Homo sapiens: one gene and its partners. The protein of the gene in region 1 interacts with the protein of each later gene in a biochemical or structural test. Each region holds a gene or a part of one and is shown in the gene's direction. Other genes may lie near its edges. The genes, in order: TBP, GTF2E1, GTF2A1 and GTF2F1.

What was found.
Region 2: the proteins of TBP (region 1) and GTF2E1 form a complex in vitro, tested with the Homo sapiens proteins (3 studies listed by BioGRID).
Region 3: the proteins of TBP (region 1) and GTF2A1 form a complex in vitro, tested with the Homo sapiens proteins (7 studies listed by BioGRID and IntAct, with this or other methods).
Region 4: the proteins of TBP (region 1) and GTF2F1 form a complex in vitro, tested with the Homo sapiens proteins (3 studies listed by BioGRID, with this or other methods).

What each region holds. Positions count from the first base shown.
Region 1 is NC_000006.12:170,557,369-170,564,401, forward strand, and holds part of TBP (TATA-box-binding protein), read left to right. Parts: intron 1-4,422; coding exon 4,423-4,865; intron 4,866-7,033. UniProt on the Homo sapiens protein: The TFIID basal transcription factor complex plays a major role in the initiation of RNA polymerase II (Pol II)-dependent transcription.
Region 2 is NC_000003.12:120,745,722-120,752,754, forward strand, and holds part of GTF2E1 (general transcription factor IIE subunit 1), read left to right. Parts: intron 1-4,801; 5' UTR 4,802-4,831; coding exon 4,832-5,279; intron 5,280-7,033.
Region 3 is NC_000014.9:81,217,953-81,225,557, reverse strand, and holds the start of GTF2A1 (transcription initiation factor IIA subunit 1), read left to right. Parts: upstream 1-4,598; 5' UTR 4,599-5,039; coding exon 5,040-5,069; intron 5,070-7,605. UniProt on the Homo sapiens protein: TFIIA is a component of the transcription machinery of RNA polymerase II and plays an important role in transcriptional activation. TFIIA in a complex with TBP mediates transcriptional activity.
Region 4 is NC_000019.10:6,379,064-6,383,189, reverse strand, and holds the end of GTF2F1 (general transcription factor IIF subunit 1), read left to right. Parts: intron 1-1,339; coding exon 1,340-1,493; intron 1,494-1,574; coding exon 1,575-1,636; intron 1,637-1,711; coding exon 1,712-1,831; intron 1,832-1,994; coding exon 1,995-2,068; intron 2,069-2,147; coding exon 2,148-2,286; intron 2,287-2,499; coding exon 2,500-2,617; intron 2,618-2,704; coding exon 2,705-2,909; 3' UTR 2,910-3,618; downstream 3,619-4,126. UniProt on the Homo sapiens protein: TFIIF is a general transcription initiation factor that binds to RNA polymerase II and helps to recruit it to the initiation complex in collaboration with TFIIB. It promotes transcription elongation.

The sequences.
Region 1 (7,033 bases):
CCCTCACCAAATTATTTTCTAGTTTTATTTTTCCCCTTTTACATTTCAAGCTCTCAACCACCCATCTACTTTAAAAATTTTTCAGCCTGGGTGCAGTGGCTCACGCCTGTAATCCCAGCACTTTGGGAGGCCAAGGTGGGCGGATCACCTGAGGTCAGGAGTTCGAGACCAGCCTGGCCAACGTGGTGAAACCTCATCTCTACAAAATATACAAAAATTAGCCAGGTGTTGTGGCGGGTGCCTGTAATCCCAGCTACTCGGGAGGCTGAGGCAAGGAGAATTGCTTGAACCCGGGAGGTGGAGGTTGCAGTGAGCAGAGGTCGTGCCACTGCACTCCAGCCTGGGAGACAGAGCGAGACTCTGTCTCAAAAAAAAAAAAAAAAAAAAAAAAATCAATAACTTTTGTTGAAATATACATACAAAAAAACTCATTTTAAGTGTCTGTTTTGATAATTATATATAATGTATAAATTACAGAACATTTCAGTTACCTTAAAAAGTCCCTTCTTCCCCTTTATAGTCACTCTGCTGGCCCCAGGTAACTACTGCATCTGCTTTTCAATGCTGAAGATTAGTTTTGTCTATTCTAGAATTTCATATAGATGGAATCAGAGTGTATGCTTTTTTGTGTATGTCTGACTTCTTAGCCCAGTGTACTGTTTGTATATCAGTAGTTAATCCATTGTATAGCTAAGTATCACTCCATTGTTTGGATGTTCCACAGTTCATCCATTCTCCAGTTGCTCACATTTGGGGTCTTTCCAGTTTGGAGCTATTGCGAATAAAAGCACTGTAAACATTTGTGTAGACTTTGAATGCACTGTTTTTACTTCTCATGGGTAAATACTTAGGAGTAGGATTGCTAGGTCCTATATTGGTATATGTATAACTTTATAAGAAACTGCCAAACTGTTTTTTGAAGTGGCTGTATTGTTTTGCAGCATAAGAGATTTAAGTTGCTCCACATCCTCACCAACACTTTCTGCTGTCAGTCTTTTTACTTTCACTCTAGTGATTGCTTAGTAGTATCTTATTGTGGTTTTGATTTTTATTTGCCTGATTACTAATGTTTCTGAGCACCTTGGCAAGTGCTTGTCAGCCACTCATACACAGGCCCACCTCACTTTACTGCACTTCACTTTACTGCATGTTTGACAAATTGAAGGTTGTGGTAAACCTGTACCCAGCAAGTCTGTTGGCATTATTTTTCCAAAAGTGTGTACTCACTTCATGTCTTGGGGTTAGATTTTGGTAATTTTTGCAGGATTTCAAACTTTTTCATTATTATCCGTTATTGTTATCAAACTTTTTTTTTTCTTTTTTTTTGTATTTTTTTTTTAATTTTTTTTTTCAGTCACTCTGTTGCCCAGGCTGGAGTGCAGTGGTGCAGTCTTGGCTCACTGCAAACTCCATCTCCCGTGTTCAAGCGATTCTCCTGCCTCAGCCTCCCAAGTAGCTGGGATTACAGGCATGCGCCACCACACCCAGCTAAATTTTGTATTTTTAGTGGAGACGGAGTTTCACCATGCTGGTGTCAAACTACTGGCTGCAAGTGATCCATCCGCCTTGGCCTCCCAAAGTGTTGGGATTACAGGCATGAGCCACTGTGCCTAGTCAAACCTTTTCATTATTATCTGTTATTGTGATCAGTGATCTTTGATGTTACTATTGTAATTATTATTGAATGCCATAAACTGCACCTGTATAATACAGGAACTTAATTGATAAATGTCTGCAGCGTGACCAACCATTCCCCCATCTCTCTCCCTCTGCTTGGTCTTCCCTATTCCTTGAGACACAACAATATGGAAATTAGGCTAATTAATAACCTTACAGTGACTTTTAATTAAGTGTTCAGATGAAGGGAAGAGCTGCACATCTCTCATTTGAAACCAAAAGCTATAAATGATTATACTTAGTGAAGAAGGCATGTTGAAAGCTGAGACAGGCTAAAAGCTAGGCCTCTTGCACCAAATAGTTAGCCAAGTTGTGAATGCAAGGGAAAAGTTCTTAAAGGAAATTAGAAGTGCTACTCCAGTAAACCCACAAGTGATAAGAAAGCAAAACAGCCTTATTGCTTATATGGAGAAAGTTTGAATGGTCTGGATAGAAGATCATACCACCCACACATCCCCTTAAGCCAAAGTGTAATACAGAGCAAGGCCTTAACTCTCTTCAATTCTGTAAAGGCTGAGAGCGGAGAGGAAGCTGTAGAAGAAAGTTTTGAAACTAGCAGAGGTTTATTCAGAGCTTTAAGGAGAGAGGCCTTCTCCACAACATAAAAATGCAACATGAAGCAGCAAGTTATCTGGAAGATCTAGCTGAGATAATTGATGAAGGTGACTATACTAAATAATAGATTTTTAATGTAGATGAAACAGCCTTCTACTGGAAGAAGATGCTATCTAGGACTTTTATAGCTAGAGAGGAGAAATCAGTGCCTAGCCTCAAAGCTTCAGAGGACTGGCTGACTAGTTAGGGGCTAATAGAGCTGGTGAGTTTAAATTGAAGCCAATGCTCATGTTCTGCTCTAAAACCATAGAGCCTTAAGAATTACGCTAAATCTACTCTGCCTGTCCTCAGTAAACAGAACAACAAAACCTGATGAGAGCACGTCTGTTTACAGCATGATTTACTGGATATTTTAAGCTCTTTGAGATCTGCTCAGAAAAAAAGTTTAATTTCAAAATATTACTCACTGACAGTGTAACTAGTTGTCCACAAGCTCTGATGGAGAAGAACAAGGAGATTAATATTGTTTTCATGCCTGCTTAAATAATATATCCATTCTTCAGCCCATGGATCAAGGAGTAATTTCAACTTTCAATTCTTACTATTTAAGAAATACAGCAGGGCATGGTGGCTCATGCTTGTAATCTCAGTACTTTGGGAGGCCAAGGTGGAAGGATCACTCAAAGCTAGGAGCTCAAGACCAACCTGGGTAACAAAACAAGTCCCTGTTGCTACAAAAAAAAATTTTTTTTTAATTAGCTGGTCATGGTGGCATGTGCCTGTAGTCCCAGCTACTTGGGAGGCTGAGGCGGGAGGGTCACTTGAGTCCAGAAGTTAAAGGCTACAATGGAGACCCTGTCTCAAAGAAAGGAAGCAGGGAGGGACATATGCTGTAGCTGCCATAGATAGTGATTCCTCTGATGAATCTGGGCAAAGTGAATTGAAAACCTTCTGAAAAAGATTCACCATTCTAGATGCCATTAAGAATGTTCATGATTCATGGGAGGAGGGTGAAATATCAACATGAATAAGAGTTTGGAAGAGGTTGATTCCAACCCTCGTGGATGACTTTGAGAGGTTCTAGACTTCAGTGCTGGAAGTTACTGCAGGTGTAGTGGAAATAGCAAGTGAACTAGAATTAGAAGTGAACCTGAAGATGTGACTGAATTGCTGCAATTTTTTGATAAAACCTGAACAGATGAGGAGTTGCTTCTTGTGAGTAAGCAAAGAAAGTGGTTTCTTGAGATAGAATTGACTCCTGGTGAAGAACTGATGACTTTAGAATATTACATAAACTTAGTTGATAAAGCAGCAGCAGGGTTTGAGAGGATTGACTCCAATTTTGAAATAAGTTCTAGTGTGGGTAAAATGCTGTCAAATAGTATCATATGCTACAGAGACATCTTCAGTGAAAGGAAGAGTCAGTCAGTGTGGCAAACTTCGTCAGTCTTATTTTAAGAAATTGCCACAGCTACCACCCTGATCAGTCAGCAGCCATCAACATCGAGGCAAGATCCTCTGTCAGCAAAAAGATTATGATTTGCTGCAGGCTCACATGATTGTTAGCATTTTTAGCAATAAAGCATTTTTAAATTAAGTTATATACATATTATTAGACATAATGCTATTGCACACTTAATAGACTTTAGTGCTAACATAACTTTTGTAGGCACTGGGAAACCAAAAAATTGATGCCGCTTGCTTTATTGAGATGGTCTGGAACCTAACCTGTAGTATCTCCGAGGTATGCCTGTATCTTCATTTGTAATATGTCCTTCACATCTTTTGCCCTTTTTTATTATTTTATTTGTTGATCTTCTTTTATGGAGTTGTCAGAGCTCTTTATTATTCTGTTTACCAGTCCTTTCTCAGATGTATGTATTATAGTTATTTTTTTCCCAGTCTGGCCTGCCTTTTAATTTTCTCAATGGTGTCTTTCAAAGAACAGAAGTTTTTAATTTTTCCGAAGTTCAGTTTATCCATTTTTCTTCATGTTTATCCACTGTGTGGTATTAAAGAAGAAAGCAATGTGTATAAGAATAGCTGGTTCTTCCGTAATTAATGTTTAATAACCCCATTATTCTCCGAAGGCATCTGTCTTTGCACACCTGACCTGCTGTTCCACCAAGAAAGTTCCACAAACACTTAGCAGCAGCCAGCCTAACCTGTTTTTCTCCTTGCTTTCCACAGGGTGCCATGACTCCCGGAATCCCTATCTTTAGTCCAATGATGCCTTATGGCACTGGACTGACCCCACAGCCTATTCAGAACACCAATAGTCTGTCTATTTTGGAAGAGCAACAAAGGCAGCAGCAGCAACAACAACAGCAGCAGCAGCAGCAGCAGCAGCAACAGCAACAGCAGCAGCAGCAGCAGCAGCAGCAGCAGCAGCAGCAGCAGCAGCAGCAGCAGCAGCAACAGGCAGTGGCAGCTGCAGCCGTTCAGCAGTCAACGTCCCAGCAGGCAACACAGGGAACCTCAGGCCAGGCACCACAGCTCTTCCACTCACAGACTCTCACAACTGCACCCTTGCCGGGCACCACTCCACTGTATCCCTCCCCCATGACTCCCATGACCCCCATCACTCCTGCCACGCCAGCTTCGGAGAGTTCTGGGATTGTACCGCAGCTGCAGTGAGTACTTCGTGTTTTATGTTTCCTCCCACTTAGGAGTCCCTTTGAGTTATGTTCCTGCTCTGTTTTCAGATGGATCCTTTTATTAAGGGAGGGAGTGGCACTAACGGTAATTGTGTATCAAAATTTGCTTTATCTCACATTTGGGAAAGGGAAGCAAAGCTATCTTAGTCAGTGTCCTCAGTAAAAGGCTCTTAACAGGTTTAGAAATGTGGTCATTTGTGTTTACATACCTGAGCCAATAAAATTTAATCTGACTTTCACTGTCGTTATTATTATATTATAGACATTTCCCTGTATCTGATATCGCTAAATCACAATGTTAGGTAGTCTCTTTCCCTTATGCTATTTTAGGTCTTTAGTCACAATATCAGTATAATTTCTGGTAGTTCTTGTTTTTTGTTTTTACTATGGGTGCTGCATATAAATCTTTGAAGGTCTGTGTCCTTCCCACAAAATGAAGACGACTGTTTTTGTCATAAATGGATTTTTCTACCTAAATGAAGTGGGTTCTATATGTAACAGTGTAGTAGGGGTAGGAAATAATTTCATCTTCCTGAAAAACCAGCAAATATTTCCAAATAATTCCAGTCAATAAGAAGTGTATAGCTTTTCATTTTAGAAAGCTTATGACCAAATTAAAAGGTTACTTGCAGTCTCTGCATCTCCTCAGTTTTCTTGTACAGATACCTTCCTCCTTCATACTCCCTTTAGATCTAGTATTTCCTATTTGCATTTATTCACCTTGTTACATATATGGTTGTTGTTTATAAGCTATCTCTCATCATTTTTGGAACTAAGTGGTGTGTAATCGTGGATGCTGACTTTCACCCAAAGACCTAAATCTTGCCTCCACAATTTTGTTTGACCCCACACACAATTTTAAAAACAAAGTAATTTTAGTGATTTTAGAGAGAGCCCTTTTTAGCTCACCCTTGTCTATACCACTCCCATGTGTCCAGCATGCTTGTCTGACTCCCAGGAATATTTAAGTTTGCATTTCTGATTTAAATAATAAATTATAAACAGTACAGTCAGGTGTTTGTTTCTTGCGAGTGCCTTTGCTGTTCTGATACTCCCCAGAGCATCCAGTCATCCACATTCCTGAATTTCCACTATCTACTAAGAACCCTCCCGGGTGGTAGTTCAGTGCCCTCTCCATCTTGTAGGCTTAAGAGGGATTAAGGTAAATATTTAATTAATGAAAATATATAAGAATACATTTAACAATTATGTGACTAAAGTTGTGATAGATATACTAAAATCTACTTGGTATAGTTCATAAGTGGACAAATGCTAAAGGCAGGTGTGTATACAAGGGTGATTGGAAGGAAATAGATGATATGGAAATGAAAACATTCATTGTGTGGATCAACCTAATTGGCTTTACAGTTGTGTATCATAGACTGTACAAGAAAAAGAACCAGAAGCAACAATGAGCTGAAACCTATTGTATTTGAACCTATGTATTTGAAATCTGGACTCGATATTCTTGGGATGGTGATTTCCAGGTCCATGCGAGACAGTTGTTGAGCAGTTAATTGCATTCAAAGGGCATTGCCCATTTCAACTATATATACTTTCATAAGCAGAAAAATGTATAATGAAAATGTGGGTTTGTTGTTTAAATTTTTATTAAAATTTCTAATAGAGTTGCTTTTTAGTATATCTTTATCCTTGTATAAGTTATTCGTTAAGTGATTTAAGAACACTGAGAAATGAAAAGGGTCAGTGGACCCAGATGGCTCCATTTATCCTTATTTACTGAGAGTTAATTAGAAGAGAAAGCAGGGTTTTGCCTTTTTTTTTTGCTAAAGACACTTAGCTCTTGTTTTTCAAAAGATACTTACTTTGAGAGAACTGGGCAGTTCATGCCTGCTTGTTTTCATTATAAATAGTTACTTAGGAATAGGGTGGTGGTGGTAGCTTTTCAGAGCTCACAGATGAGAATTGAGTTTGTCTGTGAGAAGGCTAAGGGCAGGCTCTGGAGACAGACAGACTCAAATCCTGGCTCCTCCACTTGGGAGCCATTGCGTCCTGAGCAAGTTGCACTCTACCTTTAAGCCTCAGCTTATTTATCCAAATGTGGGAATACTGGTAACTTCTACCTCAGTGCGTTATATGTATTAAATGGAATAATCTATATAAAATGCTCAACATGTGCATGA
Region 2 (7,033 bases), on another chromosome or scaffold:
ATGTTTCTGAAGCCATATGTTGTGTTCTGACAACTGTTGAGGATGTAAAACAACAAAAAATGAAAACGGGGTTCAAGTACAATGTATAGACCAAACCGAAAAGGAGAGAAAAGTGTGTCCAGTAGTATGCTGTGGTACTACTTTGGTGTCGAGCCCAGGTACTTCCCAGGCATCCTTAAGCCCTGGGGTAGCAGGAAGGCTCTAAGTTCACAGATTTGGATCTAGGTGCTACTTTGTTATATCTTACAATATGTAGTCATACCTGAGTATTTATAACCTAAAGTACGTATTTTCTTTTGACTGACTTTTACTTTTCCTTTATTACAGGAAGGGCCTTATATTTTCCCCCCAAAATATATGCATAGATTGGTTATAGATTGGTGTATAGAGTTTCCTTATAGTATGGTACTGTGGATATAAAAATATTTCTTATAAAAAGAGTATTAAATCTGTTGGGTTGATAACCACTGATTTCAAATAAAAGGGTTAGTTGAAACTAGTATTAATAACAGAATATGATTCTCCATTGAAATAGTTCAATGGGATGTCTCTCTTAAAAATTATCCTGTGGAGCCTGGCTAAGATGGTGAAACCCTGTCTCTACTAAAAATTCAAAAATTAGACAGGCGTGGTGGTGCATGCCTATAGTCCCAGCAACTCAGGAGGCTGAGGCAGGAGGATTGCTTGAACCTGTGAGGCAGAAGTTGCAGTGAGCCGAGCTTGCGCCACTGCACTCCAGCCTAGGTGACAGATCGAGACCCTGTCTCCAAAAAAAAAAAAAATTATCCTGTGGGCTGGGTGTGGTGGCTCACATCTGTAATCCCAGCACTTTAGGAAGCCCCCAAGGTAGGTGGATCCCTTGAGCCCAGAAGTTCGAGACCAGCCTGGGCAAAATGGTGAAACCCTGTCACTACAAAAAACACAAAAATTAGTCAGTCATGGTGGTGTCCACCCGTAGTCTCAGCTACTGGGGAGTTTGAGGTGGGAAGATTGCTTGAGCCCAGGAGGTTGAGACTGCACTGAGCCAAGTCACACCACCGAACTCTAGTCTGGACAACAGAGCAAGACACTCTCTCTATGAAAAGAAAAACAAATTCCCTGTGGCCTAGGGAAATTTAACTTGATTTAATCTGTGTGGATAGTCTAGCCATTTTTAGTTTGGAACATGTTAAGTTGATATGGAAGCTGTCCTTCCTAAGCACTTTAATTATATTCTTATTAATCACAACAACTCCACTGAGGTAGTTGATACTATCCTTACTTCTTAGCGAGTAAAAGGTGGCTTGAAATTGTTTAAGGGATTTGCTCAGGATTACACAGTTACCAAAACACAGGCTGTGTACTCTGAATTTCAAAGCCCAGTTTTGTGTTGTTTTGTTTTTTTGTTTTGTTTTTTTTTGAGACTGAGTTTCGCTCTTGTTGCCCAGGCTGGAGTGCAATGGTGTAATCTTGGCTCACAGCAACCTCCACCTCCCGAAGCCCAGGTTTTTATTTTATTTTATTTTATTTTTTATTTTTATTATTTTTATTTTATTATTATTATACTTTAAGTTTTAGGGTACATGTGCACAATGTGCAGGTTAGTTACATATGTATACATGTGCCATGTTGGTGTGCTGCACCCATTAACTCGTAATTTAACATTAGGTATATCTCCTAATGCTATCCCTCCCCGCTCCCTCCTCCCCACAATAGGCCCCAGTGTGTGATGTTCGCCTTCCTGTGTCCATGTGTTCTCATTGTTCAATTCCCACCTATGAGTGAGATATATGCGGTGTTTGGTTTTTTGTTCTTGCGATAGTTTACTGAGAATGATGGTTTCCAATTTCATCCATGTCCCTACAAAGGACATGAACTCATCCTTTTTTATGGCTGCATAGTATTCCATGGTGTATATGTGCCACATTTTTTAATCCAGTCTATCCTTGTTGGACATTTGGGTTGGTTCCCAGTCTTTGCTATTGTGAGTAGTCCCGCAGTAAACATACGTGTGCATGTGTCTCTATAACAGCATGATTTATAGTCCTTTGGGTATATACCCAGTAATGGGATGGCTGGGTCAAATGGTATTTCTAGTTCTAGATCCCTGAGGAATCGCCACACTGACTTCCACAAGGGTTGAACTAGTTTATAGTCCCAACAACAGTGTAAAAGTCTGTTCCTATTTCTCCACATCCTCTCCAGCACCTGTTGTTTCCTGACTTTTTAATGATTGCCATTCTAACTGGTGTGAGATGGTATCTCATTGTGGTTTTGATTTGCATTTCTCTGATGGCCAGTGATGGTGAGCATTTTTTCATGTGTTTTTTGGCTGCATAAATGTCTTCTTTTGAGAAGTGTCTGTTCATGTCCTTCGCCCACTTTTTGATGGGGTTGTTTGTTTTTTTCTTGTAAATTTGTTTGAGTTCGTTATAGATTCTGGTTATTAGCCCTTTGTCAGATGAAAAGGTTGCAAAAATTTTCTCCCATTCTGTAGGTTGCCTGTTCACTCTGATGGTAGTTTCTTTTGCTGTGCAGAAGCTCTTTAGTTTAATTAGATCCCATTTGTCAATTTTGGCTTTTGTTGCCATTGCTTTTGGTGTTTTAGACATGAAGTCCTTGCCCATGCCTATGTCCTGAATGGTAATGCCTAGGTTTTCTTCTAGGGTTTTTATGGTTTTAGGTCTAACATTTAAGTCTTTAACCCGTCTTGAATTAATTTTTGTAAAAGGTGTAAGGAAGGGATCCAGTTTCAGCTTTCTCCATGTGGCTAGCCAGTTTTCCCAGCACCATTTATTAAATAGGGAATCCTTTCCCCATTGCTTGTTTTTCTCAGGTTTGTCAAAGATCAGATAGTTGTAGATATGCAGCGTTATTTCTGAGGGCTCTGTTGTGTTCCATTGGTCTATATCTCTGTTTTGGTACCAGTACCATGCTGTTTTGGTTACTGTAGCCTTGTAGTATAGTTTGAAGTCAGGTAGCGTGATGCCTCCAGCTTTGTCCTTTTGGCTTAGGATTGACTTGGCAGTGTGGGCTCTTTTTTGGTTCCATATGAACTTTAAAGTAGTTTTTTCCAATTCTGTGAAGAAAGTCATTGGTAGCTTCATGGGGATGGCATTGAATCTATAAATTACCTTGGGCAGTATGGCCATTTTCACGATATTGATTCTTCCTACCCATGAGCATGGAATGTTCTTCCATTTGTTTGTATCCTCTTTAAGTTCATTGAGCAGTGGTTTGTAGTTGTCCTTGAAGAGGTCCTTCACATCCCTTGTAAGTTGGATTCCTAGGTATTTTATTCTCTTTGAAGCAATTGTGAATGGGAGTTCACTCATGATTTGGCTCTCTTTTTGTCTGTTATTGGTGTATAAGAATGCTTGTGATTTTTGTACATTGATTTTGTGTCCTGAGACTTTTTGCTGAAGTTGCTTATCAGTTTAAGGAGATTTTGGGCTGAGACAATGGGGTTTTCTAGATATACAATCATGTCATCTGCAAACAGAGACAATTTGACTTCCTCTTTTCCTAATTGAATACCCTTTATTTCCTTCTCCTGCCTGATTGCCCTGGCCAGAACTTCCAACACTATGTTGAATAGGAGTGGTAAGAGAGGGCATCCCTGTCTTGTGCCAGTTTTCAAAGGGAATGCTTCCAGGTTTTGCCCATTCAGTATGATATTGGCTGTGGGTTTGTCATAGATAGCTCTTATTATTTTGAGATACGTCCCATCAATACCTAACTTATTGAGAGTTTTTAGCATGAAGAGTTGTTGAATTTTGTCAAAGGCCTTTTCTGCATCTATTGAGATAATCATGTGGTTTTTGTCTTTGGTTCTGTTTATATGCTGGATTACATTTATTGATTTGCGTATATTGAACCAGCCTTGCATCCCAGGGATGAAGCCCACTTGATCATGGTGGATAATAAGCTTTTTGATGTGCTGCTGGATTCGGTTTGCCAGTATTTTATTGAGGATTTTTGCATCAATGTTCATCAAGGATATTGGTCTAAAATTCTCCTTTTTGGTTGTGTCTCTGCCCGAAGCCCAGGTTTTTAAAGTAAACTATATGCCAATGTGGGCTTTGAGAAGACAGCTTTCTGGGTCATGGTACGGAAATGAGATACACTTAGTTTCTGCTTTGTCAAGGGATCCAGTATTTAAGAATATTTTGGGCTGCTCTCCCTCCCTCATTTTCTACCTTTTTAAGGACTGGATGGTCTTTCCTTGATTATCAGATTCAATTTTTCAAGGTTGGTAAAACTGTCTGGATCTAAGTATTACTTTCTTTCAGTTTTACAACAGTTAATGATTTTGTCAAACACCCCAGGTGGTGATTACTCATGTGTTTATTGGTTTGTTGTGATTTTATTGTGAAAGCATGACTATGTAAAACATCCTAGAATCTTGGTAGAAAAATTTTACTCAAGAAAGGAAACAAAGACACTTTTAGGAAATGCGAACTGCTAGTTTTCTCAGGGTTTCCAGCATTCCCAAAGAATAGTGAGCATTTCATGTAGCTTTTTTTGTGTTTCTCTTCTGAAGTAAAGTAGACTTGACGTAATATATTGTTTTATAAATAAAAAGTTACTTTTTAATCAAACACACTATAGATCATAAAAGTAGCCATTTAAGAAATATGTAAAGCTTTTTGGGTGTAATCTTTTGTGCATTCTAGAGGAAAATCTTGTTCTGCTCTGTTAAATGCTTAGGTATTAGAAATCTTTTTAAACACTTTGGGTACTTTTCTGGCACTGCAAGGATAGTGGATATGATTACCATGTTCTTATACCTGGCTAATTTTCTGTTTTTTTTTGAATTCAGTATATTTAAAGTTGGAGTTCGTTGCTAAAGATGGCAGACCCAGATGTCCTCACTGAAGTTCCAGCAGCATTGAAGCGGTTAGCCAAGTATGTGATCCGGGGATTTTATGGCATTGAGCATGCCTTGGCCTTGGACATCTTGATCAGGAACTCCTGTGTGAAAGAGGAGGATATGCTGGAGCTGCTCAAGTTTGATCGGAAGCAACTTCGATCAGTTTTGAATAATTTAAAGGGAGACAAGTTTATCAAATGCAGAATGAGGGTAGAGACTGCTGCAGACGGGAAAACCACTCGCCATAACTACTACTTCATCAATTATCGTACTCTTGTTAATGTGGTAAAATATAAACTGGACCACATGAGAAGAAGAATTGAGACCGATGAGAGAGATTCGACCAACCGGGCTTCCTTCAAATGTCCTGTCTGTAGTAGTACTTTCACAGACTTAGAAGCTAATCAGCTCTTTGATCCTATGACAGGTGAGGTTTATCCAGTTTGTGAATCTTTAAAATAAAGTGTGTATTACCTTTTTTCTTAAATTGATTCATCTAATTTTTAAACCATCATATATATTATTATAAAAGTGAATGGATCAGTGTAAATCACAGCATACAGTCAGTCTTACTGTCCTGTTTGGCTGTCGCACTACTTTGAGAAGCCTTTGCAAAGCGTTTCTCCTTTACAAGGGAGTTTCTCACTTATGGCCCTCCTGCCTCTGCCCACCCCACCTTGTTTACAACTGCAGCCTAATCTGAAGGGTTGATTTCTCTACCACTTTGAGGCTGTTCTAATTTTATTTTTGACCTCTAGACAGTTGCAATACAGTGTATTTAAATGCTTTGTTAGTGGAAGTAGAAAGTGGTATCAGGAGTATATAACTAGGGCATATAATCTGGATTTGGGGAAGGCCTCTGGAAGAAGTTAACATTTGAGACCTAAAAGATAGTAAGAGTTAGCTAGATGAAATAAGAGGGGAATTCTTTCCAAGATAAGACATTTAGTGTCCTTTAGATACACATTATTGTTGGAAGAAAATTGTCAACAAGATATATAATTGGCCTGATTTGATTGAATAGTTTTAAGGATTTTTCATAACACAATTTAGAAAGCATGCATTATCTGAAAATACAATATGTCTAGCATAAACATGAGAAACTTTAAAGTTCTGAGTTATATAGTTATTTTATCTTGTTATCTGTTTACACAATAAAAAAGAGACTAGTTTTGCTAAATACTCGATCAATTTTGTCTTATTTTCTACAGGTAAAAATCTATAGAAGGACTCAGTGCTATTAAATTAGATTAAGTCCCTTTGTTATGGTTGAATTCAGGAGTATAGGCTACTTTTTAGTTCATAGATCTGCTTTTTTAAAAACTTCGTCTGAAAGTTTAAACTTTGACCCATGAAATATTTGGTTGTGCAAAATTACAGATTTCTGTGTATGTTTTATTTTCTAATTTTTATGTTATATATGGTACATTTTAAATAATTAAAAAAAATTTTTAAGTGGGAAATAACCCCAATATAAATTAAGATTATTGACAAAAAGAGCCAGAAGCAATCTGTGACCTTTTTTTCTTATTTACTGTGAGGCAATGATTTTGGATGAAAACTGATTTAAGGAATTCACAATTGTATTAAACATTTAATTTGTCTGAGCCGAGCTTTTTACCTTGAAAGGGCTCCACAAGGAGAGATCTTGATTATAAGAAAGTCTTAACCATCCTCGGTATGAGAATTGCTTGAGTGTTCTATAGAGGAAGGTTGTAGAATATATCTGGAGCTCTTCAAAATAGACTAGAAAAGTCTCATGATTCTTGCCATTCACTCTAACAGATTTCTTACAGGAGCTCTGGGTTCTTGGTTTTGTAATTCTCTACAGATGTTGGTTTTAACAGTGGAGGCTTCATCACTCTTGACCACAGTAGAAGGTGTTATCCAGTCCCTTAGAGTAATCTAAAATAACATGCTTCTACTACATTTATTTGTCATTTGAGTCATATTAATTTAATTAAACTTTCTAAAAGGAGATGATTCCACTACTTATATATCAGTATTTGGGAGACTGATCATGATACTCTTGAATTTCACCTGGATTCTGAATGAAACTAGTTGACTCAATAGATGGCCTGTGGAAGAGATGGCCTAACATTCCATCCAGTACAGTCAAGGTGACTTGAATCAAGGAGTTAGGGTAGAGGGCATGAAAGTATTTTATGAAATAAAGCTAAA
Region 3 (7,605 bases), on another chromosome or scaffold:
ACAAGTTTTAAAATGCATTGTGAGGCTGGGATGCTGTTAGATATTCACCACTTGAGTTATCAAAATTTGGCTGAGTTTCTTGTAAAGTAAGCATTGGCCACTGACATCATTATTTAAAAAAAAATTTTTTTTTTGAGACAGGGTCTCGCTCTGTCACCCAGGCTGGAGTACAGTGGTGCAATCTTGGCTCACTGCAGCCTCTGGGTTCAAGTGATTCTCGTGCCTCAGCCTCCTGAGTAGTTGGGATTACAAGTAGGCACCAGCATACCCAGCTAATTTTTGTATTTTTAGTAGAGATGGGTTTTCACCATGCTGGCCAGGCTGGTCTCAAACTTCTGACCTCAAGTGATCCACCCACCTCAGCCTCCCAAAGTGCTGGGATTACAGACCTGAGCCACCACTCCCAGCTGTTGTTGTTTTTTTGAGACAGAGTGTGTCTCCAGCTCTGGTGCCCAGGCACGATCTTGGCTCACTGCAACCTTTGCCTCTCATGCCTCAGCCTCCCAAGTAGCTGGGATTACAGGCACATGCCACCATACCTGGCTAATTTTTAGCAGTTTTAGTAGACACAGGGTTTCGCCATGTTGGCCAGGCTGGTCTTGAACTCCTGGCCTCAAGTGATCTGCCTGTCTCAGCCTCCCAAAGTGCTAGGATTACAGGCATGAACCACAACATGCAGCCATCATGATTAAAATGTAATGGTAGTGTTCTACAAAGTGATTTAAGAACATCTTTCCCCAGCTTTGATGATATTGGTGTAGCTGTTACAGTTACCATTAATAATAAAACACCCACCAAATACTTGTCAAAGCACTTCCTACTACCTTTGATTTTCCAACAACGATAGGTGGTGGTGATTATTTCACCTTATTGACACAGAATCATGGCACAATGTCACACAGGAATTTAGTGGCAAGAGTCAAACCTGATTCCACCAAAACTCCACACTAAGTTAATTTACTTTTGCTAAAAACTACAAACTGGTCTACACTTTGTTCTACAGAAAATAACTTAGAGCTGGTTGGTGTTTTAAGACATGAAGTAGCAATTTCAAACTAAGTTACAACAGACAAAGATAATTTAAAAAGATTTTAAAAAATCTCTTCATCACATGTATAGAACTAATTTGTATGGTCAGCAATTTCTTATAGCCACCATCAAAAATTTGTGCATGTGAAAATCGGCAGTTTCTTTGAAAATGACAAAAACATAGGTGAAATCTGAATGCAGTATAATTTTTTTTGGTAGGACTGAAATATGTATGCTTTCAACAGCTTAAATGAATGCTATGACTATGCACTACACTTTAAAACAGGGACTTTCATTAAGATTGGTAAACTTGCTTGGCACGGCGGCTTACGCCTGTAATCCCAGCACTTTGGGAGGCCGAGGCAGGTGGATCATCTGAGGTCAGGAGTTTGAAACCAGCCTGGCCAACAATGGTGAAACCCCGTCTCTACCAAAATTACAAAAATTAGCTGGGCGTGGTGGTGTGAGTCTGTAATCCCAGCTACTTGGAAAGCTGAGGCAGGAGAATAGCTTGAACCCACGAGGCAGAGGCTGCGGTAAGCCGAGATCGCACCACTGCATGCCAGTCTGGATGACAGAGCAAGAGTCTGTCTCAAAAAAAAAAAAAAAAAAAAAGAAGGAAAGAAAAAAAATGATTAGTAAGCTCAAGGCATCTTTCTTCTTCAATTCTGTATCCTCCCAAAGTGCCCAATACATACTGAGCATACATACATACATACATACAAAGTGCCCAATACACACTGAGCATACATACATACAAAGTGCCCAATACATACTGAGCATACATACATACATACATACAAAGTGCCCAATACATACTGAGCACTAGGGCCTAAATATGCCTCAAAACTAGTTTTGTTTTTTTTCTTTCTTCACTATTTAAGAAAATGGAGTTTGCTGGGAAGTCACAAGATTTTAGTTTAAGCCAATTTCCACAATCTTTTTAGACTCTTCTCTTTCTTGGCATTGTTGCTAAAATAGTCATTTGGACAGTAAAATATTTAAATGTTTGGACACAGAAGGTTTGCTGTCATTTTGTTGATGGTGTAGCAAAATTTATACATCGATTTTTTTTCCCTTTTCTTCTCTTGTTTTACAGTTATCTAGTGTTTAGGCTGCATATTAAAAGAAAGACGCAACATTTTAACTCCCAGTATAAATCATTTTGAAGTTAAAAAAAACACATAAACATTCATCACAAGGAGAGTACTATTATGTATCTATCTAAGTACATAGCTGCTACAAAGTGTAAGATCACAAACAGCAAATCCTGTATAAATGTTTTATATAGTAGAAAGAGCTGTTAAAGTTAGAAACGTCATTCAAGCTGTAGGAGACCAAGAATAAAAAGTTCAGATAGAAACAATTTAAATATGATGCTAAATGTAATCTTACTTGGGAGAAGTTTTCTCTCACAAATTTTGTTTTGTGAATTAAAGGGCTGCAGCTTCCAAGTATTCAGTCCTACAATTTTGGTATAACAGAAAATATTTCTTTCCGAAACTAAACTGGATGGCACACATATGTTGCAATGAAGGCATATAACAGCTATTGAGGGACTGGAAAACCAATATATTGGAATGGAATCCATGATGGCTAGATGCCAGACACACAAGCAATCTAAGTTCCTGGGTAAATATTAACCAAGTGCTTAGGTCTTGTTGCAATCTAGGTGTAAAGAGAGAAGCCAACTCAGAGCCTCCAGGGAGTCTGATGGTCTTAAGGAGGCCAAGACTAGGTTTTCTGCCATTTTAATCCAGTAACTACAATCCATTATTTCACAGATTAATTCTGTGAAGAGCAAACCTCGTAGCTTTTCTTCCCTGTCCTGTCTGCAGTGGTTTTAACTTTAATTGATGGCGAAACTACTCAACCTTTTAGTCAAGAATATCAATAGTAGGGGGGAAAACTAGGTGGAAGGTGAGGGATTCCATGTGCAAAGCGTTTGGGAGTATGTAATAGGGAGGTAACAAGAAGTCCTCTCAATATGTAGTAAAACTTAACAGGAATGGTATTGTTTAGTGTAAATTTTCGGGCTGTCACCTGAATATTAAATGAATTACAAATGTTGATAGAATCATAACTTTATATAATATACCAAGAACACTGATTTCCTGTGATTTTTTTCTTTAAGTGTCCCAGACCATGCAGCTGTGCAGGAAACTGGGAAGCAACTGTTAACAGGGGAATGGACTTGGCGTGAAAAGAAATGTCAAGGTTCATAGATATCCTCTACACCCATTCACAATCTCCCATTTTCTGAGTATTCAAGGCCTCTGGTTTCTCTAATCCCTTTCTTCAAGTCTTGGCAAGATGCATTTTTTTTCCTCTTTGGTAAGACGCCTTTGATATTCTTCAAATCTGGTTTCACCAGCACAGAACTTTGACGTTTCGTTTTGCTTTGTCTCTGGAAGACAAACTCCCTCACTCATCCACGCGACATTTCAAGTCCCTCAAAATTCCCAGGGACAAGAAAACTAGGTACTATGAATTCTGCCTTCCAAACAGCATTCTCTGTTCTGCTTGCAAGGTCGATATAAAGGCAGGATTTGCTTGGGCAGAACAAGTCAAAAGCTTATTGAATTGCACTTATTGAATTGAACATGGAACACAGCCGGCTTGCTCTCTTATAGCGAGAGGCCATGCGAGTTGGTGGGTCAAGGGCATGCATTTCAAAGTGATCAGTCACTATACGTTGGCCACATGGAGTCGCAGTATTTTGGCAATATTTTTAAAAACCAGGGAAAGTTACTGTGCTGTTACAATCCAAAGGCTGGTGGGGTTTTCTTCCACCCCGCATTTCCACTAGCGTGATAAATTATTTAAAGTACGTGGCCTAGTAGAGGACTAACCTCTGGGTAACATAAGCCTAGTCTTCGCAGCGTACCCACTGTGGAAACAAACGAATCAGACGTTACTAATTGTGGAATGTTAAAAGTAGGCCCCGATCGGCTTTTACTCCCTTTGGAAAATCCTACACAATTCTGCGCGCGAAAGACCCACCCTCGGTGAGGCGGTGAGGCGCGAACGCCGCGAAGCTCACAGTCAAAGCCTCGCTGACAAATCAAGAGATGACTCCGCATTTAAAACCTTCCCGAATAGGAACGCGCCAGAGGCCGGAAGCCACGCCACGTGACCAGTCCTCCTCCGCGGCCATTCCTAGCGAGGCAGTAGGCACCGCCTCTGTCACATTTCCTAGCTCCTAAAGCGCGGGACCAGGCGGAAACGTGCGACAGGAGGCGGTCCCACCTAGCTTTGGACTGGAGTGTCAGTAGAACTCCCGTCTTTTCCAGCAACGCTTTGCAAGTTCTTCACCGCAAAGAACTGCCGCAGACTTCCGCCTGGGTGCCAACCACGTGATCACGCGAGCGTTGGAGAGGCGTAGGTCCGATTTCACTACTTCACTCCCCGGGCTCCGCCAGTCCAGTACCCGCCACGGCGCGTGACAACGCGGCTCGCCGGCGGCCTCCGCCCCGGCGCGCCTGCGCACGCGGCTCTCGCGGTGTCTCGCGCTCAGCCCCGCCCACCTCTGCCCCCGCCCTTTCCGCCCCTCCCTCCCCCTTCACCCTGTCTCTCGGCGGCGGCGGCGGCGGCGGTGGTGGCTCGCGCAGCTTGTTGGCTCGCTATATAAAGGAGAGAAGCGGGCGGACCGGACGGCTGGAGCTGCAGCCGGTGGCGGCAGCGGCGGCGCAGGGAGCGGTGACCGGTGGTGGTTTCCCTCCTTGGCGCGGGGTGGGGAGCGGGCAACGCCCCCCGGACCCCTGAAGGGTCGTGGCTTTTTTTTTTTTTTTAAGGCGATTCTCGAGGTTTTCAGCTGCGGGAGGAGTGCCCCCCTCCTCCTCCTCTCTCCGCTCTCCCCTACTCCTTCAGGATTGATTTTGTTTAAAATTTTTTCCCCAATCTTGCGGTGATTTGGGTCACCCTCCGGGTGTTATAGTTTTTTTTTTTTTGGTTTTGTTTTTATCTTGTTTTCTTGGGGTTGCCCCCTCTTGTTTGTGTTGTGTGTGGAAATGGCGAACTCGGCAAATACAAACACCGTGGTAAGGACGTGGTTCGGTGGCCGGCGGGGGCTTCGTTCAGGCTGCAGCAACGGCCGGACCGGGCGGGGGCGGGGACGGCGGCGACTCCCGGCCTCGACTCTTCAGCCGCCCGCGCGGCCGCCGCCGCCGCCGCTTCCCGCCTCGGGCGGATCGGGCCGGAGCGCCGGGCGGCGGGCGCGGGGGGGCGCCGAGGGCTCGCGGCGCGGGGAGGGCGGGGGCGCCGGTGGGGCCTGGGGCCGCCGCGGGCCGGGCCGGGCCGCGGAGGCGGTTGGGCCCGGTCGGGCGCGCAGCCCCGGCCCCAGAACCCGGCCGCCGGGAGGGAGGGCGGGAGGGGAGCCGCCGCTTCCCCCCGAGGGGCCCGTCCGCGCTGGCTTGACGAGGGCTCCCCGAGTGGCTACAGAACAAAAACTGTGTGTGGGGAATCGGGCGAACCCCCGAGACCCATCGTGATCCACTTTAATGCAGTGGAAGATTAATGGTTACTTTGGGGGTTTCTTAGGTTGTTTTTGGCGGCTGTGCTTTGGGAACCTTCTCTGAGGCCATTTTATGTTTAAAAAAAGGACGAAGGTTGGTTGAAAAGCACTTATCTCAGTTCCTTCCGAATGGGTAAAATGGCGAAGGGGAAGACCCCCATCGTATCTTCGCCTAGCAGAAGCACCAAAACAAACAAAAAAAGCCTGCAGTGGTCCAAGTGTCCCCGCTTTCGCCTTGAAATTTACCTACTTCTTCCCGTTGGTCCCTTTTTGTTACTTGCGATCACGTAGGTTTGCAAAAAGCAGTCACATAAATAACCTTTTCAGTCACCAACGCAGTGTGATCACTAGTCCACCCAACTCTTATTTTTATGATGACAATAAAACACGTTTTTTGCCCGGTCCCAAATGCCGCAGACCAGCCCGCGGCCGCCCGACACCGTACCGTTGGCGACTCGGGTCTAACCATCATGGCTGCGGCCGCTTACCCTGCTTTTCAGTCCCTGAGCCTTGTGGTCCTCCTCCCTTTGGCTGCCCTGTTTATATAGAGCCATTGCCGCTCTCTAATATAGACTCTGCCAGGATGGGAAGGTGCTTTTCAGGCCTACGTCACCGCCTCTCCATTTAAACACCAGATCCGGCTTTAAATAGTGAGAGCTGCTGAGAGCGGGGCTGGGAGGTGCGTGCTCCCGAGGCAAGAGCCAGGCGTGTGCAGAGCTCAGTTTATTTCTAGGTCCTTTTTTCACCCTGTGATTTCGCACCCGTCGCGGGCTGCTTTCAGAGCCCCAAGTTTTGGTTTTGTTCCCAGCAGCAGCTAGGATTTGCCTTCTTTGTTTGCTAGGGGGAATATATCCGAATCGCTGTCCCTTTTTGTTTACAATTTTCAAAATTAATTATTTAAAACAAAGAGTTTTAGATCAGATGGTCTAGCCATTTTTCTTATGTGCATTATTTTCGGGAATTTAAAAAACTGCTTTCTACATGGAAAATGTTAGCTGCAGAGGACTTGGTTTTGGTAGTGTTTTGTTCAAGTATTCAGGAAATAATGTTAGAAATATAGCTCCTAATATTTCATTATGTTTTCCTATAGTAAATATAAAAGACACGAGGCTTTTCAGAGAAATAGATAAGTACCTAAAGCTTCAGTATAGGACCATTTATGTGTAGGAGAATCGTGAGTAGAGGGAAGAGACAGACTGCAAACTAGATTAAAAAAAAATCTAAGTAGAACTTTATTGCCTTGGATATTAACATGGGTATCCGGTATAAAAATTATTCCAATTTATTTTCCAGCATTGCATCAGGGAATTAACATTTTTGAAGGAAACCTAACAAATGACTTAATAATGCCACTAGTGGCCCTCTGATTTACCAGTTCTTAAGTTTGAAATAACCTGTTTTTTAAAAATTAGGACAAACTTAAATTGTATTTCGTGAAAGAAACTTTGCCTCAAGTATTAGTGTAGAATTTTAAGCAATAATTTAGAAATTGCTTATTTCAAATACTCCTATGTGCCCACATACTTTTCAAAAATTAGTATCTTGAAGGCTTTTCAAATTGTGAACAATTCTGCTAAATTACTCGTTAGGCATATATTTTGTGAAGAATACACATTTCCCTTCCTTCACCTATAGGGCTTATGAAGCTGTTAAGTGGTCAAGTTGTGAGTTCATTAAGGCACAAAAATAAAATCTTAATGATTTATTAAGTTGAGAGTACTAGAAGAAAGCAGATTTATACCTACACATGTCTGGATCTCCAAGCAAAAGGTTTTTAGAGGTAACTGACTTCAGAAACGCCAAAACACCATCTAGTTTACTGAAAAGCATACATATTGTCAATTTGAGATTTATACTCCCAATTTAAAATACATTGCCCTCCTAACGCCTCGAGGAGTAATTATTGGTTAAAAAAAAAAAAGCACTTTATAGAGATACTTTTGTAATTCAGTTAAGTCACTTTAGGCAAGATGATGTCCATAGTCAGATATACTTTCCTTATATATAGAATTAGAATGTTAAAGTAGGGACTATAGAAATGTGCATTTTACAGATGAATAAAC
Region 4 (4,126 bases), on another chromosome or scaffold:
TGGCTCACGCCTGTCATCCCAGCACTTTGAGAGGCTGAGGCAGGCAGATCACCTGAGATCAGGAGTTTGAGACCAGCCTGGCCAACACAGTGAGACCGTGTCTCTACTGAAAACACAAAAATTAGCTGGGCATGGTGGTGCATGCCTCTAGTGCCAGCTACTCGGGAGACTGAGGCAGGAGAATTGCTTGAACCCGTGAGATAGAGGTTGTGTTGAGCCGAGATCACGCCACTGGACTCCAGCCTGGGCAACAGAGAGAGACTCCGTCTCAGAGAAAAAAGAATGAGAGTCAGGCGAGGCCGCCTGGAGGAGCAGTGATGTCAGTCAGGAGGCAAGGCCAGAGCCCGGGAGAGCTGAGCCATGGCCCTTCTTTTTTTTTTTTTTTTTTTTGAGACAGGATCTCTCTCTCTCTCACATGGGCTGGAGTGTAGTGGTACAATCACAGCTTACTGCAGCCTTGACCTCCGAGGGTCAAACGATCCTCCCACCTCAGCCTCCTGAGTAGCTGGGACTACAGGCGTGCACCACCACACCCGGCTAATTTTTTTTTTTTTTTTTGGAGACAGAGTCTTGCTCTGTTGCCCAGGCTGGAGTGCAATGGCGCAATCTCGGCTCACTGCAACCTCTGCCTCCCAGGTTCAAGTGATTCTCCTGCCTCAGCCTCCCAAGTAGCTGGGACTACAGGCATGCACCACCATGCTGGCTAATTTTTGTATTTTTAGTAGAGATGGGGTTTCACCATGTTGGCCAGACTGGTCTCAAACTCCCGACCTCAGGTAATCTGCCTGTCTCGGCCTCCTAAAGTGCTGGGATTACAGGCGTGAGCCACCACGCCCGGCCTAATTTTTGTGTTTTTTGTAGAGACTGGGGTCTCACTCACTGTGTTGCCCAGGATGGTCTGAAACTCCTGGGCTCAAGCCATCCTCCCGCCTCAGCCTGCCAAAGTGCTGGGATGACAGGCATGAGCCACTGCACCTGGCCTGGCTGTGGCCTTTACGGGGGTTCCTATGAGAAACTGCAACTCTAGGTTGACCAGTTTCAATAACTCCTGTGCGCTCCGGGCTGTAGGGGCTGTGTCCCTGGTTATCAGGTGCCTCGCCCGGGTGGTCTGGGAGAGGGGGAGTGGTCTGTGAGCGCTAGAGAAGGTGGGTGGGGGTGTGGGGTCTGCCGGGAGTTTGTTTAGGAGAGCTGAGCTCCTGGGCTGGCCCTGGAGGTGTAGTCTCCCCAGTCAGTGAGGCCCCCCAGGATGTCAAAACTGCACAAAATGTGAAAAACACAATAAATACCCACTGCCTTCCTCCTCACTTTCCCTCCTTTCCTTCCTTTCCTCCCTTCCCAGGGGGCAGAGTCCCCAAGGCCAAGAAGAAGGCGCCGCTGGCCAAGGGCGGCAGGAAAAAGAAGAAGAAGAAGGGTTCAGACGACGAGGCCTTCGAGGACAGCGATGATGGGGACTTCGAGGGCCAAGAGGTGGACTACATGTCAGACGGCTCCAGGTGAGGCCGACGGGAGGCGCCTGCGAGACCCCATGCAGCCTCGCGAGCGCGCGCTCATCCTTTGCCATCCCCGTCTTACAGTAGCTCCCAAGAAGAGCCTGAGAGCAAGGCCAAGGCGCCGCAGCAGGAGGAGGGGCCCAAGGGTAGGCGATGGCTGGGCGGGCCGGGGAGATGGGGGCGGTGCTTCCCTGCTCTTGCTCATACCCTGCCCCTCCCAGGTGTCGATGAGCAGAGCGACAGTAGTGAGGAGAGTGAGGAGGAGAAGCCGCCTGAGGAGGACAAGGAGGAGGAGGAGGAGAAGAAGGCACCCACCCCGCAGGAGAAGAAGCGCAGGAAAGGTGCGGCGCATGTGGCCCCCATATTGGAGGCTTGGGTCGGGCCCTGGCGCCCTGCCACCTCCTCCCCTCTCCCCTGCAGGCCTCCCTCATCTGCAGTGGAGGCACCAGTGGGCACCGGGTCCCGGGGTTGCTCTGGCCCTGACCCCTTTCCTGTGCCCCGCAGACAGCAGCGAGGAGTCGGACAGCTCAGAGGAGAGCGACATTGACAGCGAGGCCTCCTCAGCCCTCTTCATGGCGGTAAGGCCCAGCCCGGTGGCGGGGGAGGCCTGGGCGTCTGTTTGCAGACTCACCCACCTCCCAACCCTGACCTCTGCAGAAGAAGAAGACGCCACCCAAGAGAGAGCGGAAGCCGTCGGGAGGGAGCTCAAGGGGCAACAGCCGCCCAGGCACGCCCAGCGCAGAGGGTGGCAGCACCTCCTCCACCCTGCGGGCGGCTGCCAGCAAACTCGAGCAAGGTGAGTGCCCGTGGCCTCCCCGCTCCCCACAGCCACAGCCACAGCCTCCTGACCTCTGTTGGGGCTCAGGACAGAGAGGGGATGGAGATGCGGGTGGAGGCCTGTCTCTCCCTGATCCCCTTGAACCCTAATCCTGGCACTGCCCAGCCTGGGGTCCTGCCCAGGGGTTCTGCCTCCTGCCTGCAAGACTCAGCCCTGACCCCACTCCCACAGGGAAGCGGGTGAGCGAGATGCCTGCAGCCAAGCGGTTGCGGCTGGACACGGGACCCCAGAGCCTGTCTGGGAAGTCGACACCCCAGCCACCATCAGGCAAGACAACACCCAACAGCGGGTAAGTTGACGAGGACAGCAGGGGGCAGGGCAAGGGCTACTGGGGACAATCTCACTGATGCCACCTTCCCCGTCCTCCCATCCTCAGCGACGTGCAGGTGACTGAGGATGCCGTGCGCCGCTACCTGACACGGAAGCCCATGACCACTAAGGACCTGCTGAAAAAGTTCCAGACCAAGAAGACAGGGCTGAGCAGCGAGCAGACAGTGAACGTGTTGGCCCAGATCCTCAAGCGACTCAACCCCGAGCGCAAGATGATCAACGACAAAATGCACTTCTCCCTCAAGGAGTGAGGCTTGGTCCAATACATGGCTCTGCCCCCCAGAACTTAAGGCTCTCACTGCCCCTTCGCCATCCTAGAGTGAGGCTCTGTCCAATACATGGCTCTGCCCTCCAGAACTTCAGGCTCTCAGTGACCCTTCGACATCCTGCTTGCTCCCTGACTCCCAGGGCCCCGTAGTTAGCAATTCTGGAAAAGTTAAGCCATCTCCTCCTCTGGCCCTTCCTTCTGGAATCTTCAGATGCCTGTTAGGCCTTCTTATTGTCCTCCTCCTCCTGGCTCGGCCTCCCTCACACTGACCAAGGGCCTGTGCTGCCCACTGGGTAACTTCTACAGTTCTCCCTTCCACTTCCCTAAGTCTCTCTTCAGCTGTGACTTATCCACCACATAGCCCAGTAAGTCTTCAGTTTTGGCTGGGCATGATGGTGAGCGCCTGCAGTCCCAGCTACTTGGGAGGCTAAGCCCAGTTCAAGGCTGCAGTGAACTATGATGGTGCCACTGCATTCCAGCCTGGGTGACAGAATGAAATCCTGGCACAAAAAAAAAAAAAAAGTAGCCAGGCATGGTGGCGGGAGCCTGTTGTCCCAGCTGTTCCGTAGGCTGAGGCACGAGATTCACTTGAACCTGGGAGGTGGAGGTTGCTGTGAGCTGACACCACGCCACTGCACTCCAGCCTGGGTGACAGTGAGACTCTGTCTCAATAAATAAAAAATAATAATAAATTGCTCAGATTTCTTTGTTTCCTTTTTAGATCTGCTACTCTGTTTGGATAATGTCTTATTCCTTATGTTTTGGTCCCATCTTTCATGGTTTTATTTTTATTTATATTTTAGGTTTTGAGACAGGGTCTTGCTCTGTTCACCAGGCTGGATTGCAGTGTCCACCGTCTTGGCTCCCTGCAACCTCCACCTCTTGGGCTGAAGCGATCCTCCCACCTTAACCTTTCAAGTAGTGCACACCACCACGCCCAGCTAATTTTTTAATTTTTTGTAGAGGTGAGGTCTCACTGTATTGCCCAGGTCAGTCTTGAACTCATGGGCTCAAGCAATCCTCCCACCTCAGCCTCCTGAGTAGCTGGGACCACAGGCGTGTACCATTAAATGCCTGGCTAATGTGTTTTGTTTTTGTTTTTGTTTGAGACAGAGTTTCACTCTTGTTGCCCAGGCTAGAGTGCAGTGGTACAATCTCGGCTTACTGCGACCTCTGGTTCCTGGGCTCAAGCAGTTCTCC